Linked DNA regions of Homo sapiens. The protein of the gene in region 2 purifies or fractionates together with the protein of the main gene of each other region. This does not show direct contact. Each region holds a gene or a part of one and is shown on either strand. Other genes may lie near its edges.

Region 1 (3,500 bases), about 32 Mb from region 2:
TGTGGGAGCCATAATCTTCCACTGGGACCACTTCTCACCCTCCATTCCTCTGTTCTTCCCAGCTCACTTCCCCCAGCATGGTAACAGAGACAGCTGACATCTTACTAAGAAGCTCTATCTTGCTTCTGTACAAAACACGCATCTTTTAGCGGTGTTTAGCTCTTCTGATAGACACAGTGAAGGTCACATTTTGTTTCTTCTTTCCTTAGGCTGGGTCCTTAAACAATGAGAGCGGACTGGTCAGCTGCTACTTTGGGCAGCTTCTCTCCAAATTAGACAGGATCAAGACTGATTACACACTGAGTATTGCCAACAGGCTTTATGGAGAGCAGGAATTCCCAATCTGTCAGGTGAGTTGCACACGAATGGTGACTAAAGCTACCATGTAGCATACTATTTAAAAATCAGGGAGTAGCTGGGTTACTCACCTGCCATCTAGAACACAAACCTCTTTGACAGGATGATGCGCTGTGGACTGGTGAGGTGTCCAGGACCTCCCTCTTTCAGTCCCACAGTTTTCTTCTCTTCCCAGTGTTCAATGTGAGCAGTTTACGGGGCCCATTGTGGGTGGAATAGAGTGGGTGGGAAAAGGTTGTGTGAGTAATGGAGGCTTTGGAGCACGTGTGGGCTTGGTAATGGCATCCTCTCCTGACTGTCTTCCCCAGTCAATGTGCCTGGTTGCTGCACTTCTCTCTCCCTTATCTGTTAGGTGCCCCCAAGACATTTCTGTGGAATCTCCTTTTGTGCCAGGATCAGGCTACCCCCGCAATGCAATTGTGTTCACTATGCTCTTTTGAGAGTGGGGTAGCAGGAGGAGACTGCGTTTTGGCATTTGGAGCTGAAAGGCACAGGACTTGTGTCTGTGGCTAAACAGCTTCGTACCTAGAGCAAGCTGTGTCTCCATCTGGGCTTCAGTTTCCTTTTGAATCACTAGAAGGAGCCATGTGCTAAATAATAAATGTGGGGGATATGACCAATGGCAAAGACGTGACATGGTTGGTTAGAGCAGGACTAGCCAGGGGTTGGGTGGCCTCCTTTGGCCAAAATAAGTGTGTTTCCTTGCAATGAAAGTAAGATTTTTCATGCTGGATTTTTAAAAACTAGCCTTTTGATGAGCTATAAATTCATATATTAAACAATTCACCTGTTAAAAGTACACAAACCAATGGGTTTGGTATATTACATTACTGATTTTTTAAAATTATAGTAAAATACATATAAAATTTACCATTTATGTGTACATTTCAGTAGCATTACTTACATTCACAATGTTGTGTAACCATCACCTTATCTATTTCTAAAACTTTTTTTTTCATCACTCTAAACAGAAACTCTGCAACCATTAAGCGGGAGTTTAATTCTTAAAAACAGAAGCATTTTCCAGCCAAGTCTCTCAAGTTACTTGATACTTACCTTGTGATGGCTCCACAGATGGTTTGTTGAAATAAAAGGATATCCAGTAGGAAAGGCTTGTCCCGTTGTAACTATAGACTGTTCATGAATAATATTTGATATCCTCATTTTTCACTAAAAAAACTGAAATGTCTCTGGCTAGTTTAAGACTGGGGATGGCTAGAAACTGTCAGGCCTGTCCATGAAATGTGAAATGACCAGGCTCATCTTTCTTGGGAGACTTCTCAGGAGAGTCTCACTCCTAACTACGAGCATCACTGCCTGACTTTATTGCATTATTTCCCTTTTATTCCAATGGAACAGGAATACTTAGATGGTGTGATTCAATTTTACCACACGACGATTGAAAGTGTTGATTTCCAAAAAAACCCTGAAAAATCCAGACAAGAGATTAACTTCTGGGTTGAATGTCAATCCCAAGGTAAGAAAGCCCAAAAGCACGGGAGCTGGTATTGGTTTCCATTTAAAAGAAAATTGGTCTGCCTAGCTTTGCAGACTGCTGGTCTACTGGGGGCCAGAGGTTCACATATGTGGACTGTGTTCAAAGCATGGTTTGCAGAATGAGATACCATCTCACACCAGTCAGAATGACTATTATTAAAAAGTTAAAAAACGACAGATTCTGTCAAGGCTTCAGATAAAGGGGAACACTTATACACTATTGGTGGGAATGTAAATTAGCCATTGTGGAAAGTAGTTTGGAAATTTCTCAGAGTTAAAACAGAGCTGTCATTCGACCCAGCAATCCCATTACTGAGTATATATCCAAAGAAATAGAGATCATTCTACCAAAAAGACATATGCACTCATATGTTCATCACCACACTATTCACAATAGCAAAGACATGGAATTAACCTAAGTGTCCATCAATAGTGGGTTGGATAAAGAAAATGTGGTACATATACACCATGGAATACTACACAGCCATCAAAAAGAATGAAATCATGTCCTTTGCAGTAACATGATGGAAATGGAGGCCATAATCCTATGAATTAACACAGGAACAGAAAGGCAAACATTGTTCTCACTTATAAGTGGGAGCTAAACATTGAGGACACACAGACATAAATATGGCAAGGAACAATGAACCCTCCAGATACTAACTTGGGTCAGGGAGGGAGAGAGGAATGGGTTGAAAAACTACCTATAGGGTACTATGCCTACTATCTGTGAGCAACATGCCATGTAACAAACCTGCACATGTACTTCCTGTATCTAAAATAAAAGCTGAAATTTAAAAAAAAACAAAACAAAAAAGCATGGTCTGAACAGCATCAAACAGTTAAACTGCTTAGATATTGCTGTTATTTATTATTGCAGTTTTGGTCTCTGGTCTTGCTGGCTCTGGGCGGGAAAGGAGGACACCAGCCTCGTTAGTGCTGATCTTCTAGGTGGGGCTTAGAGAATGCTCCCTTCTACCGGTGCCCGTGTGAATTTGAAAAACAGAATAAACTCTTCCCTCCAGGACCAAAGTTAGTGACCTGAAGGGTCAGGTCAGGCTGCTGGACATAGACTAGGCCCCTTTTTGATCATCGTGTGGGGCTGGCGAAGGTGTTCGTGTACAGTGAAAAGTTTGGAGTGCATGAGAGAGCACAGGTAGTGCATTATGTCTCCTGCCTTCAGAGTGAGACCATGACCCCAGGCATTTGCATACATTTTGAGTGGCTGGAGGCTGGGAAATGACAGTTGACTTATTTTAGGCTGTCCTTGGTACCAGAGTGACAGTTTCGGTTCCTCCCTTCCATTTGGTGGCTTTCTCTCCCTGTCTCCTCTTTTTCTCACACTGACTTAGGGATGGGATACCCCTGCCTGCCTTTCCTTGGGAGAAGTCTCTAAATTCCAAAATTATTGCTTTTTCCTTCTTTCATAGGCCATAAAAATGACCATTCTTTCAAGGCTCTACTCAGCTGTCAAAAGGAAAGCAATTCATTAATGAAGCTCATATTAAGGCCTGGATATGTACTTTCCCCTTAGTGAGTTAACTCCTCCAGAAAATTTGAAATGTAGATGATGTCAACCTAATCTATTATTATGGGATTTAAATAGAGCTCTTCTTGAGATGGAAGATCTTTTCTTCTTAAGACAT
Region 2 (3,500 bases):
AAGCCTCCAAGAAATATGGGACTATGTGAAAAGACCAAATCTACGTCTGATTGGTGTACCTAAAAGTGATGGGGAGAATGGAACCAAGTTGGAAAACACTCTGTAGGATATTATCCAGGAGAACTTCCCCAATCTAGCAAGGCAGGCCAACGTTCAGATTCAGAAAATACAGAGAATGCCACAAAGATACTCCTCGAGAAGAGCAACTCCAAGACACATAATTGTCAGATTCACCAAAGTTGAAATGAAGGAAAAAATGTTAAGGGCAGCCAGAGAGAAAGGTCGGGTTACCCTCAAAGGGAAGCCCATCAGACTAACAGCAGATCTCTCAGCAGAAACCCTACAAGCCAGAAGAGAGTGGGGGCCAATATTCAACATTCTTAAAGGAAAGAATTTTCAACCCAGAATTTCATATCCAGCCAAACTAAGCTTCATAAGTGAAGGAGAAATAAAATCCTTTACAGACAAGCAAATGCTGAGAGATTTTGTCACCACCAGGCCTGCCTTACAAGAGCTCCTGAAGGAAGCACTAAACATGGAAAGGAACAACCGGTACCAGCTGCTGCAAAATCATGCCAAAATGTAAAGACCATCGAGACTAGGAAGAAACTGCATCAACTAACGAGCAAAATAACCAGCTAACATCATCATGACAGGATCAAATTCACACATAGCAATATTAACTTTAAATGTAAATGGACTAAATGCTCCAATTAAAAGACACAGACTGGCAAATTGGATAAAGAGTCAAGACCCATCAGTGTGCTGTATTCAGGAAACCCATCTCACGTGCAGAGACACACATAGGCTCAAAATAAAAGGGTGGAGGAAGATCTACCCAGCCAATGGAAAACAAAAAAAGGCAGGGGTTGCAATCCTAGTCTCTGATAAAACAGACTTTAAACCAACAAAGATCAAAAGAGACAAAGAAGGCCATTACATAATGGTAAAGGGATCAATTCAACAAGAAGAGCTAACTATCCTAAATATATATGCACCCAATACAGGAGCACCAAGATTCATAAAGCAAATCCTGAGTGACCTACAAAGAGACTTAGACTCCCACACATTAATAATGGGAGACTTTAACACCCCACTGTCAACATTAGACAGATCAACGAGACAGAAAGTCAACAAGGATACCCAGGAATTGAACTCAGCTCTGCACCAGGCGGACCTAATAGACATCTACAGAACTCTCCACCCCAAATCAACAGAATATACATTTTTTTCAGCACCACACCACACCTATTCCAAAATTGACCACATACTGGGAAGTAAAGCTCTCCTCAGCAAATGTAAAAGAACGGAAATTATAACAAACTATCTCTCAGACCACAGTGCAATCAAACTAGAACTCAGGATTAAGAATCTCACTTAAAACCGCTCAACTACATGGAAACTGAACAACCTGCTCCTGAATGACTACTGGGTACATAACGAAATGAAGGCAGAAATAAAGATGTTCTTTGAAACCAACGAGAACAAAGACACAACATACCAGAATCTCTGGGACGCATTCAAAGCAGTGTGTAGAGGGAAATTTATAGCACTAAATGCCCACAAGAGAAAGCAGGAAAGATCCCAAATTGACACCCTAACATCACAATTAAAAGAACTAGAAAAGCAAGAGCAAACACATTCAAAAGCTAGCAGAAGGCAAGAAATAACTAAGATCAGAGCAGAACTGAAGGAAATAGAGACACAAAAAACCCTTCAAAAAATTAATGAATCCAGGAACTGGTTTTTTGAAAGGGTCAACAAAATTGATAGACTGCTAGCAAGACTAATAAAGAAAAAAAGAGAGAAGAATCAAATAGATGCAATAAAAAATGATAAAGGGGATATCACCACTGATCCCACAGAAATACAAACTACCATCAGAGAATACTACAAACACCTCTACGCAAATAAACTAGAAAATCTAGAAGAAATGGATAAATTCTTGGACACATACACTCTCCCAAGACTAAACCAGGTAGAAGTTGAATCTCTGAATAGACCAATAACAGGAGCTGAAATTGTGGCAATAATCAATAGCTTACCAATCAAAAAGAGTCCAGGACCAGATGGATTCACAGCCGAATTCTACCAGAGGTACAAGGAGGAACTGGTACCATTCCTTCTGAAACTATTCCAATCAATAGAAAAAGAGAGAATCCTCCCTAACTCATTTTATGAGGCCAGCATCATTCTGATACCAAAGCCAGGCAGAGACACAACAAAAAAAGAGAATTTTAGACCAATATCCTTGATGAACATTGATGCAAAAATCCTCAATAAAATACTGGCAAAACGAATCCAGCAGCACATCAAAAAGCTTATCCACCATGATCAAGTGGGCTTCATCCCTGGGATGCAAGGCTGGTTCAATATACGCAAATCAATAAATGTAATCCAGCATATAAATAGAGCCAAAGACAAAAACCACATGATTATCTCAATAGATGCAGAAAAAGCCTTTGACAAAATTCAACAACCCTTCATGCTAAAAACTCTCAATAAATTAGGTATTGATGGGACGTATTTCAAAATAATAAGAGCTATCTATGACAAACCCACAGCCAGTATCATACTGAATGGGCAAAAACTGGAAGCATTCCCTTTGAAAACTGGCACAAGACAGGGATGCCCTCTCTCACCACTCCTATTCAACATAGTGTTGGAAGTTCTGGCCAGGGCAATTAGGCAGGAGAAGGAAATAAAGGGTATTCAATTAGGAAAAGAGGAAGTCAAATTGTCCCTGTTTGCAGACGACATGATTGTATATCTAGAAAACCCCATTGTCTCAGCCCAAAATCTCCTTAAGCTGATAAGCAACTTCAGCAAAGTCTCAGGATACAAAATCAATGTATAAAAATCACAAGCATTCTTATACACCAACAACAGACAAACAGAGAGACAAATCATGAGTGAACTCCCATTCACAATTGCTTCAAAGAGAATAAAATACCTAGGAATCCAACTTACAAGGGATGTGAAGGACCTCTTCAAGGAGAACTACAAACCACTGCTCAAGGAAATAAAAGAGGACACAAACAAATGGAAGAACATTCCATGCTCATGGGTAGGAAGAATCAATATCGTGAAAATGGCCATACTGCCCAAGGTAATTTACAGATTCAATGCCATCCCCATCAAGCTACCAATGACTTTCTTCACAGAATTGGAAAAAACTACTTTAAAGTTCATATGGAACCAAAAAAGGAGCCCGCATCGCCACGTCAATCCTAAGCCAAAAGAACAAAGCTGGAGGCATCACACTACCTGACTTCAAACTATACTATAAGGCTACAGTAACCAAAACAGCATGGTACTGGTACCAAAACAGAGATATAGATCAATGGAACAGAACAGAGCCCTCAGAAATAACACCGCATATCTACAACTATCTGATCTTTGACAAACCTGAGAAAAACAAGCAATGGGGAAAGGATTCCCTATTTAATAAATGGTGCTGGGAAAACTGGCTAGCCATATGTAGAAAGGTGAAACTGGAT
Region 3 (3,500 bases), on a different chromosome or scaffold from region 2:
ATCTTTGGAGGGCCATCATTCTGTCTACCATGGAGGGATATGGGTTGGGTTTAAATGTCAGCATTCCCGAACCCAGCATGAGAAGGGAGACAGTCCCAAATTCAATATGTAAACTTTTACTGAGCCCATCAACTTTCTGTACAGTGCTTCATTCCCACTCTCAGCTGGGCCTGATATGCAAGAGTCTACTATGAGCTCTTGACTCAGTTCCTGCTAAGTGTAAAGCTCGTCTTCTGCCGGGGTGGAGGACAGTGAGGGAGAAGGAACTATGGGAGGTCTCACTGTCCTTCATACAGATCAGTCCTCTTGCTTTTGGTCTGAGACCTTACTCCTGGCTACGACTTTTTGGTGTTGCTCATGCCTGCGCCATTGTGACGTTCTGCAGTGTGAATCTGCTTGCTTCTGGCTTAGACTTTCCCCTCTATGGGCTTAGCTTCTGTTTAGACTGCTCAGCATTTTCCATTGTTCATCTGTTTTCCAACTTCCAAAATTTTATTGGTATTTCTGAGGTGGTACTTGCCTATCTCCTGTTGTCTTTATGTCTGTGGATTTGTCCTTCAACCCCAATTCTTTTCTGTCTTTTGGAGGAAAAAGGATATAACTCTCTGTGTTGAATGTACCTTGTTTATTGAGAACTTGCTTTTATGCCCTTCATGAAAGCATTGCATGTCCATACAACTTCAATCAGGCCTCCAGTCCATCTAGGATTCTCCCAAGGCAGTCCTTCCTATCAGTGGGCAGGTTTTTTTTGTTTTTTGTTTTTTTAAATTTAAGAGACAGAATCTCCCCCTCACCCAGGCTGGAGTGCAGTGGCGTGATCATAGTTCACTGCAGCCTCGAATTCCCGGACTCAAACAATCCTCCCTGGGCAGATGTTTTGAACCTTTACTACTGATGCCTCAGTTTGAGTACCAGAACTGTTTTCAAAGATGTAGACATATGCAAACTGTGAGTTCTCAGACCATTTCTGAAAGGCCAAACACTCCACGGACCACCACTCAGTTCTCCTGTAACCTTGAGAATAGACGGGAAAAGTGTGATTGTTCTGTTGAGATGGAAATGAAATTTCAAAGTGGAGAAAGGGAGAAGACAAATAGTGAGGACAAACCAGAAGTGGGAAGAGCTAGGGGCAGGAGAGCGGAGAAAGGATGCACAGAGAAGTAGAGTAAGGAAACAGGTTATTGTCTTAGGGTCCCTTTCCAAAGCCTTTCAAAATTCCAAAGGAGGGATGGCCAGTACTTGGCACCAGTCAAGTTAGGAGCTGAGTTTGAAAGAGTTAATCTCTACACTAACCCCCAAAGTATCCATTTAAACCTCATTTTATGAATGGAGAATGTAAGGCTATGAGTTGAGCATGACTGCTTAAAGTTGAAAAATTATTCAACATAGTTATTTTAAAGTCCTTGCATGATAACTTATATATCTGATCTGTGTTCCTTCTGCTTTTCAGTCATGTTTCTTTTTAAGCACGTATCCTAAGCCAACCAGCCTTTCTTTTCTTTTCTTTCTTTCTCTTTCTTTCTTTCTCTTTCTTTCTTTTTCTTTCTTTCTCTCTCTCTTTCTTTCTTCTTTCTTTCTTCCTTTTTTCTTCCTTTCCTTTCCTTTTCCTTCCTTCCTTTCCTTTCCTTTTCCTTCCTTCCTCTCTCTCTCTTTCTTCTTTCTTTCTTTCTTTCTTTCTTTCTTTCTTTCTTTCTTTCTTTCTTTCTTCTTTCTTTTCTTTCTTTCTTCTCTCTCTCTTTCATGGAGTCTTGCTCTGTCACCTAGGCTGGAGTGTAGTGGCACAATCTCAGCTCACTACAACCTCTCCCTCCTGGGTTTAAGCAATTCTCCTGCCTCAGCCTCATGAGTAGCTGGGACTACAGGCATCTGCCACCACTCCCAGCTAATTTTTTATATTTTTGGAGAGATGGAGTTTCACCATGTTTGCCAGGCTGGTCTCAAACTCCTGGCCTCAGGTGATCCACCCACCTTGGTCTCCCAAAGTGCTGGGATTACAGGGGTGAGCCCCCATGCCTGGCCCTAAGTTTTTATTTCTATCTGTCCTAGAAATATATCCAAATCTTTAACTTTTCCATCGTATCTGTGTAATCCACAAATGCAGAATTTTCCATGAGAGAGGGGATTTAAAAGATCTGGTTTGTTTCTTGAAGTGTTCTGGCACCTGTCAGACTGTGGACCTTGATTTCTGGTTCACTCTACTTGTAACTTGCAGCCTCCCTCCCTCTTCCCAGTAAAATAGATTTGCATGGTTTAATGTTAGATGACATGGACCTGAGTGATGAGATTTGAGCTGAGGAGCAGGGAAAGGGGCAGAGTAGGGGAGCTTGTCAGTGAAACTTAAGTCTCAGAAGGTAGCTTGGTGCTGAAAGACTCCCCAGGATGGGCACTAGGAGGATGCAGGCCAGCTGGGAACGGTGGTGGGAGACTGGCGGTGAACGGACACATCTCCTGCTGAATGCAGTTGGCCTTCACCTTTCTCAGTCTGCCACGCGTGATGGTGACGGGAGCTCAAGGAATACAGTGGAGGTTTGTCGCTTGGTCTCCAGCCGGGGAGGAGGCTACCAGGGAGAAGCACCTGGTATAATGCATTTAACCCAGAGTTCTTCAAGCATTTCTCATTGCTACTGAGCATGAATCTTGGTGAGGTGTTTATTCTCTGAGATCTGAGGATTTGAGCCATGAGGCACCCAACACTCAGGCTTTTCCCCTAATCTGTAGTCATTCTACAGAAACAATAGGACTGTGCCTAATTTAATAGAAAATAGATAGAAAGATATTGATGGCAAAGTGGATGAATTACATTTGGGGGAGATTTAGAGAGTAAGGAAGGAGAGTTTGAATAGTAACATGAAAGGACAGTAGGGCCAGTAAGATGTGACTTGTGGACATTTATTGTCTAAGTATGTTTTGAAGGAAGAAGGAAGTATGGGACAAGGCATTGAGGATGCAAGAAATGAAGTCACCTGGCTAAGAGAGGAAGGACTGGCTGAAGAGAGGAGAATAGAGTCTAGGGAGGAATGAGATCCAGCAAGAGATAGGGTCAGCTGGGGCATTTTCTTACCAGAGATCTGCAATCTCCTAAGACAGGTGTTCCCAACCCCTGGGCTGCAGACCAGTACCCATCCATGGCCTGTTAGGAATCGGGCTGCACAGCAGGAGGGGAGCAGTGGGCCAGTGAGCATTATGGCCTGAGCTCCGCCTCCTGTCAGATTAGCGGCAGCATTAGATTCTCATAGGAGTGGGAACCCTATTGTGAACTGCATGCAAAGGATCAAGGTTGCGTGCTCCTTATGAGAAAATAATGCCTGATGATCTGAGGTGGAACAGCTTCATCCCAAAACTATCCCCTCCACCCCATCTGTGGAAAAATTGCCTTCCACAAAGGTACCAAAAAGGTTGGGGACAGCTGGCCTAAGAAGAGTAGGAACTGAGACATCCTGCTGGAGGGACCATGGGGGTGGGAGGCAATGAACAACTGAAGAGAGATTTACATTTGTGGG
Region 4 (3,500 bases), on a different chromosome or scaffold from region 2:
TGGTTGTCGTGGGTGAAGCACGTGAGGCCTGGCATGCTGCACGTGTCGTTGTTCTGCAGGCGCTTGAGCAGCTTGCGGAGTTTCTTCTTGCGCTTCTGCTCCCGCAACAGCCACACCTTGTCCTTCTCTTGCAGGCCCTTCCTATGGGCGCAGAGGGCCACACACACCTTGGGCCTCTGAGGGATCAGTGACCCCATGTCTCTGCTCTTCCTGTCCACCTAAGGGCTTCGCTGAGGCTTCTCCAACAGAGAGCCATGGGCATAGCAATTCAGGGTCCCAAGTCCCAGTGCTGCTCCAAGGCAGAGCCGGGACCAGAACCTGGGTCTTGTCATTCTACTTTAACTCCCAAGGGGGCACAAGCTGGGGACAGAACCAGGCAGCTACTGGGACTCCTGTTGACACCCCTTTCCCCTCCTTCCTGTGTCCTGCCCTGCTTGGTGGAGTTGCGGTAACCCCATTTAGCCACAAGGGGGCGTCGGAGGCCCGCTCAGTGTTGATTGGGAAGTAAGGCCTCTTCGAGGGCTACCGTGGACTTCCCAGGGAAGGGCCTGGACTTCTTTCCTTTTCTTCTGAGTTTTAGCTTAAGGGAGGGCCACCTCCTCATGCAGGCCTCTGCATCTCTTCCCCAGGACCTCAAGCTGCTCTTACCTGAAAGGATGCAGACTGGAGCCTCTGTGCTTGAGGCGGCCTTTGTGCTGGGTGTGGTAGCTGTAACAGACCCCCCCAGCCCCAGGCTTCAGGAGTGGCTCAGAGGGCTCCGCTGGCAGGTGCAAGCTGTGATTTCTGGGACTCCCATGTGTTGCTGCTGCCCCACCCCTGTCCCTCCTTCTGGGGTGGTGGTGGGTAGGGCATGACCCTATCCTCAGGGCAGCAGGTGCCTGCCTGAGTGGCTTCTTTCTCCAAGCATGAGCCAGGACTCTGCCTGGACTTTTGCTAGACTTTAGCAGGTTGGGTTAATTGTAATTTAGCCACGACTAGAAGCTGGGCCTGGCTTTAGGTGCATCAGCCTCAGCATCCTTTTTCCTTTCTTTTTTGATGGTTAATTTTACATGTCAAAGCCTCAGCATCTTGAGGTTGGTTCCCTCACCACCCTGCCTACTCACACTTGGTCGGGGTCAACACAGGGAAGCCTGTGTTTTGCAACACTTTCTGGAAAGACAGCAGGGCTTCTACAGCTGTGCTGTCCAGTATGGTAGCCACTGGCCACAGGTGGCTACTTCAATTTGAATTAAGCAAAATAAAAAATTTGGCTCCTTAGTGACACTAGCCAAAATTTTAAGTATGCACCAGCCACGTGTGGTGTAGTGCAGATATAGCCCATTTCCGTCAGCACAGAATGTTCTATTAGAGCTGTTCTAGAGTTCAGTCCTTTGGGCCAGGGGACCCCTAAGCCGGGAACATGGACCTCAAACCACATGGGGGATTTCTGAAAGGGCAATCGGCAGAGGCACTTTTCCGGCCTGGAGCCGGCTCTGCGCAGCCAGCACGGGTCTCTTGCTAGCAGTACTGGAATCTGGGCGCCAGCCTGGCTGAGGAGCAGGTCCGTGTGCCACACTGGCTGACAACAGGGAGGTAAATTACGGATTTTTTTAATGCCATGAGGGGAGAAGATAAAGATAAAAATAAAAAATGAAAGGGGTCAATCACGAGAGGGGATGAACTGAACTGTCCTGTAGGAGAGTGGGGTCTTAGGGAGGTCCCTTTGCTACTGCCTCACCTGATTTTGTGACAGTCACATTCTTCTGGCCGCTTTTTCTTCAGGTGACCTCGGACTTCCCTCAGGTTCTTAATTTTGTTCTGCAGGGTTTCAATCTGAGGGAGGGGCAGAAGAGGAGGCCTTGAAACCTTCAAGGCTGGACAACAAAGACTTGGCCTGGTGACTGCCCCCACGCTGCCGTGTCTGTGCTCAGCAGCGGCAGCCTGCACTCCCCGGGCCCCAGGGCAAGCACCGGCATGTCTGGGTGGGGAGGAGGTACTTGTTCTGCCTGAAGGAAGCCCGCCTTCTCCTCCAGCCAGCCCTTGCAAGGGAACCGAGTCATTTTTCCGGCCTGGCCTGCGCAGGAACCCGCTGAGCCCACTGAGGCCTCCAGTGTCTCCCCTGGGTTTGATGAAAGGCCTCCTGTAGCGTAGACTTCTTGTAAGTCAAAAGGGGGACAACGTGGCTAAGCCATCGTCCCTCAGACGGCCTGGGCAGGAAGCTATCTGTCTCATGCTGGGACTGACACCTATCCCCGCGTTGAGGAATCTGTGGGGACCTCACTTCACCTCTCCAGCCTCTTCCCTGGGTCTGGCCTCACTGCCCTCCCACTGTGAACCGGGGGTCCTGCCAGGCCCGTGGTGGCCGAGAGCATGCTCCTCTCCCGCTCTCCACTCACCTCGTGGTCGATGTGCAGCTTGTGGTCTTTCCAGGCCTGCAGGGACTTGTACAGGTCCAGGTCACACTGGACTGTGTCGTTCTCTAGGATGTAGCACCTGCTTGAGAGAAGGGATCACGTGTGGCTCGGAGGTGGTGGAGGGGGAGCAGCCCAGGTGCCCAAGAGGTGTGGGAAGCCCTTGCCGAGGTCTGTCCTGTCCCCTTCACCCTCGACTTCCACCTGGACACTCACCGATGTGTCACTTTAATGGGGTTGGCGGCTGAATAGTCGGGAAGGCCTCCAGTGCCACTGAAGTCCCCACCATCCTTGTCATCTTGGTCCTCAGGGGCCCAAGAGGTGTGGGAAGCCCTTTGCCGAGGTCTGTCCTGTCCCCTTCACCCTCGACTTCCACCTGGACACTCACCGATGTGTCACTTTAATGGGGTTGGCGGCTGAGTAGTCGGGAAGGCCTCCAGTGCCACTGAAGTCCCCACCATCCTTGTCATCTTGGTCCTCAGGGGCCCCTGGCCAGTGCCGCTTGGTGAGGTTTCGGGGCTGGGCGGCATCACCCAGGCCTACGTGGTACACCCTGCCGTCCACCTCGATGGCCACTGAGCGGATGGAGCGACTGCGGACATAGCTGGCCTTGTACTCTGTGGGCATTAGAGGAGTGGCAGAGTTAGGGAGGCAGGAAAGGCTGGCCAGGCTCCCAGGGCAGTGGGTCCTTCATCAAGATAGGGCCGGGCTTCCAAGCATGAGGCTCAGCTTTGCCTGCGACTCGAGGGGTCGTGGAATCTACCCGCCTGCTCGCAGATCCTGGACCGCAGGGGAGGGCCTCGAGGTGATCACACCGGCAAGACGGAAGTCCTGGAGCCAAGAAGCCACTGACTCAAGAGGATTTCAAGCGAGAGCTGCTTGCGGGTAAACAAATGGCGGTACATCATCTGTACAACGGAATATGCGACCAGAACCAGGAGCGAGGTTCTGATTCACGCTAGAGCGTGGATGAATGTCAAAAGCAGGCGGAGTGAAACCAGCCAGACACAAAGCGGGCTCGTATTGTTACATTCTATTTATAGGAACTACCCAGAATAGGTAAATCTATAGCGGCAGAAAGAAGATTGGTGATTGCCAGGGGCTGGGGGA

What was found. Proteins that work in one complex are often made in the same cells at the same time.
Region 1: the proteins of DSG1 (region 2) and SERPINB12 purify together in Homo sapiens (affinity purification with mass spectrometry, with the first as the bait; one large-scale study listed by BioGRID). This does not show direct contact.
Region 3: the proteins of DSG1 (region 2) and CSTA purify together in Homo sapiens (affinity purification with mass spectrometry, with the first as the bait; one large-scale study listed by BioGRID). This does not show direct contact.
Region 4: the proteins of DSG1 (region 2) and SULF2 purify together in Homo sapiens (co-immunoprecipitation; one large-scale study listed by IntAct). This does not show direct contact.

What each region holds. Positions count from the first base shown.
Region 1 is NC_000018.10:63,559,369-63,562,868, forward strand, and holds part of SERPINB12 (serpin B12), read left to right. Parts: intron 1-209; coding exon 210-350; intron 351-1,716; coding exon 1,717-1,834; intron 1,835-3,500. UniProt on the Homo sapiens protein: Inhibits trypsin and plasmin, but not thrombin, coagulation factor Xa, or urokinase-type plasminogen activator. May play a role in cell differentiation.
Region 2 is NC_000018.10:31,349,160-31,352,659, reverse strand, and holds part of DSG1 (desmoglein-1 preproprotein), read right to left. Parts: intron 1-3,500. UniProt on the Homo sapiens protein: Component of intercellular desmosome junctions. Involved in the interaction of plaque proteins and intermediate filaments mediating cell-cell adhesion.
Region 3 is NC_000003.12:122,331,748-122,335,247, reverse strand, and holds part of CSTA (cystatin-A), read right to left. Parts: intron 1-3,500. UniProt on the Homo sapiens protein: This is an intracellular thiol proteinase inhibitor. Has an important role in desmosome-mediated cell-cell adhesion in the lower levels of the epidermis.
Region 4 is NC_000020.11:47,663,482-47,666,981, forward strand, and holds part of SULF2 (extracellular sulfatase Sulf-2 isoform a precursor), read right to left. Parts: intron 3,008-3,500; coding exon 2,779-3,007; intron 2,677-2,778; coding exon of another isoform or gene 2,607-2,676; intron 2,476-2,606; coding exon of another isoform or gene 2,473-2,475; coding exon 2,376-2,472; intron 1,813-2,375; coding exon 1,718-1,812; intron 709-1,717; coding exon 649-708; intron 142-648; coding exon 1-141. UniProt on the Homo sapiens protein: Exhibits arylsulfatase activity and highly specific endoglucosamine-6-sulfatase activity. It can remove sulfate from the C-6 position of glucosamine within specific subregions of intact heparin.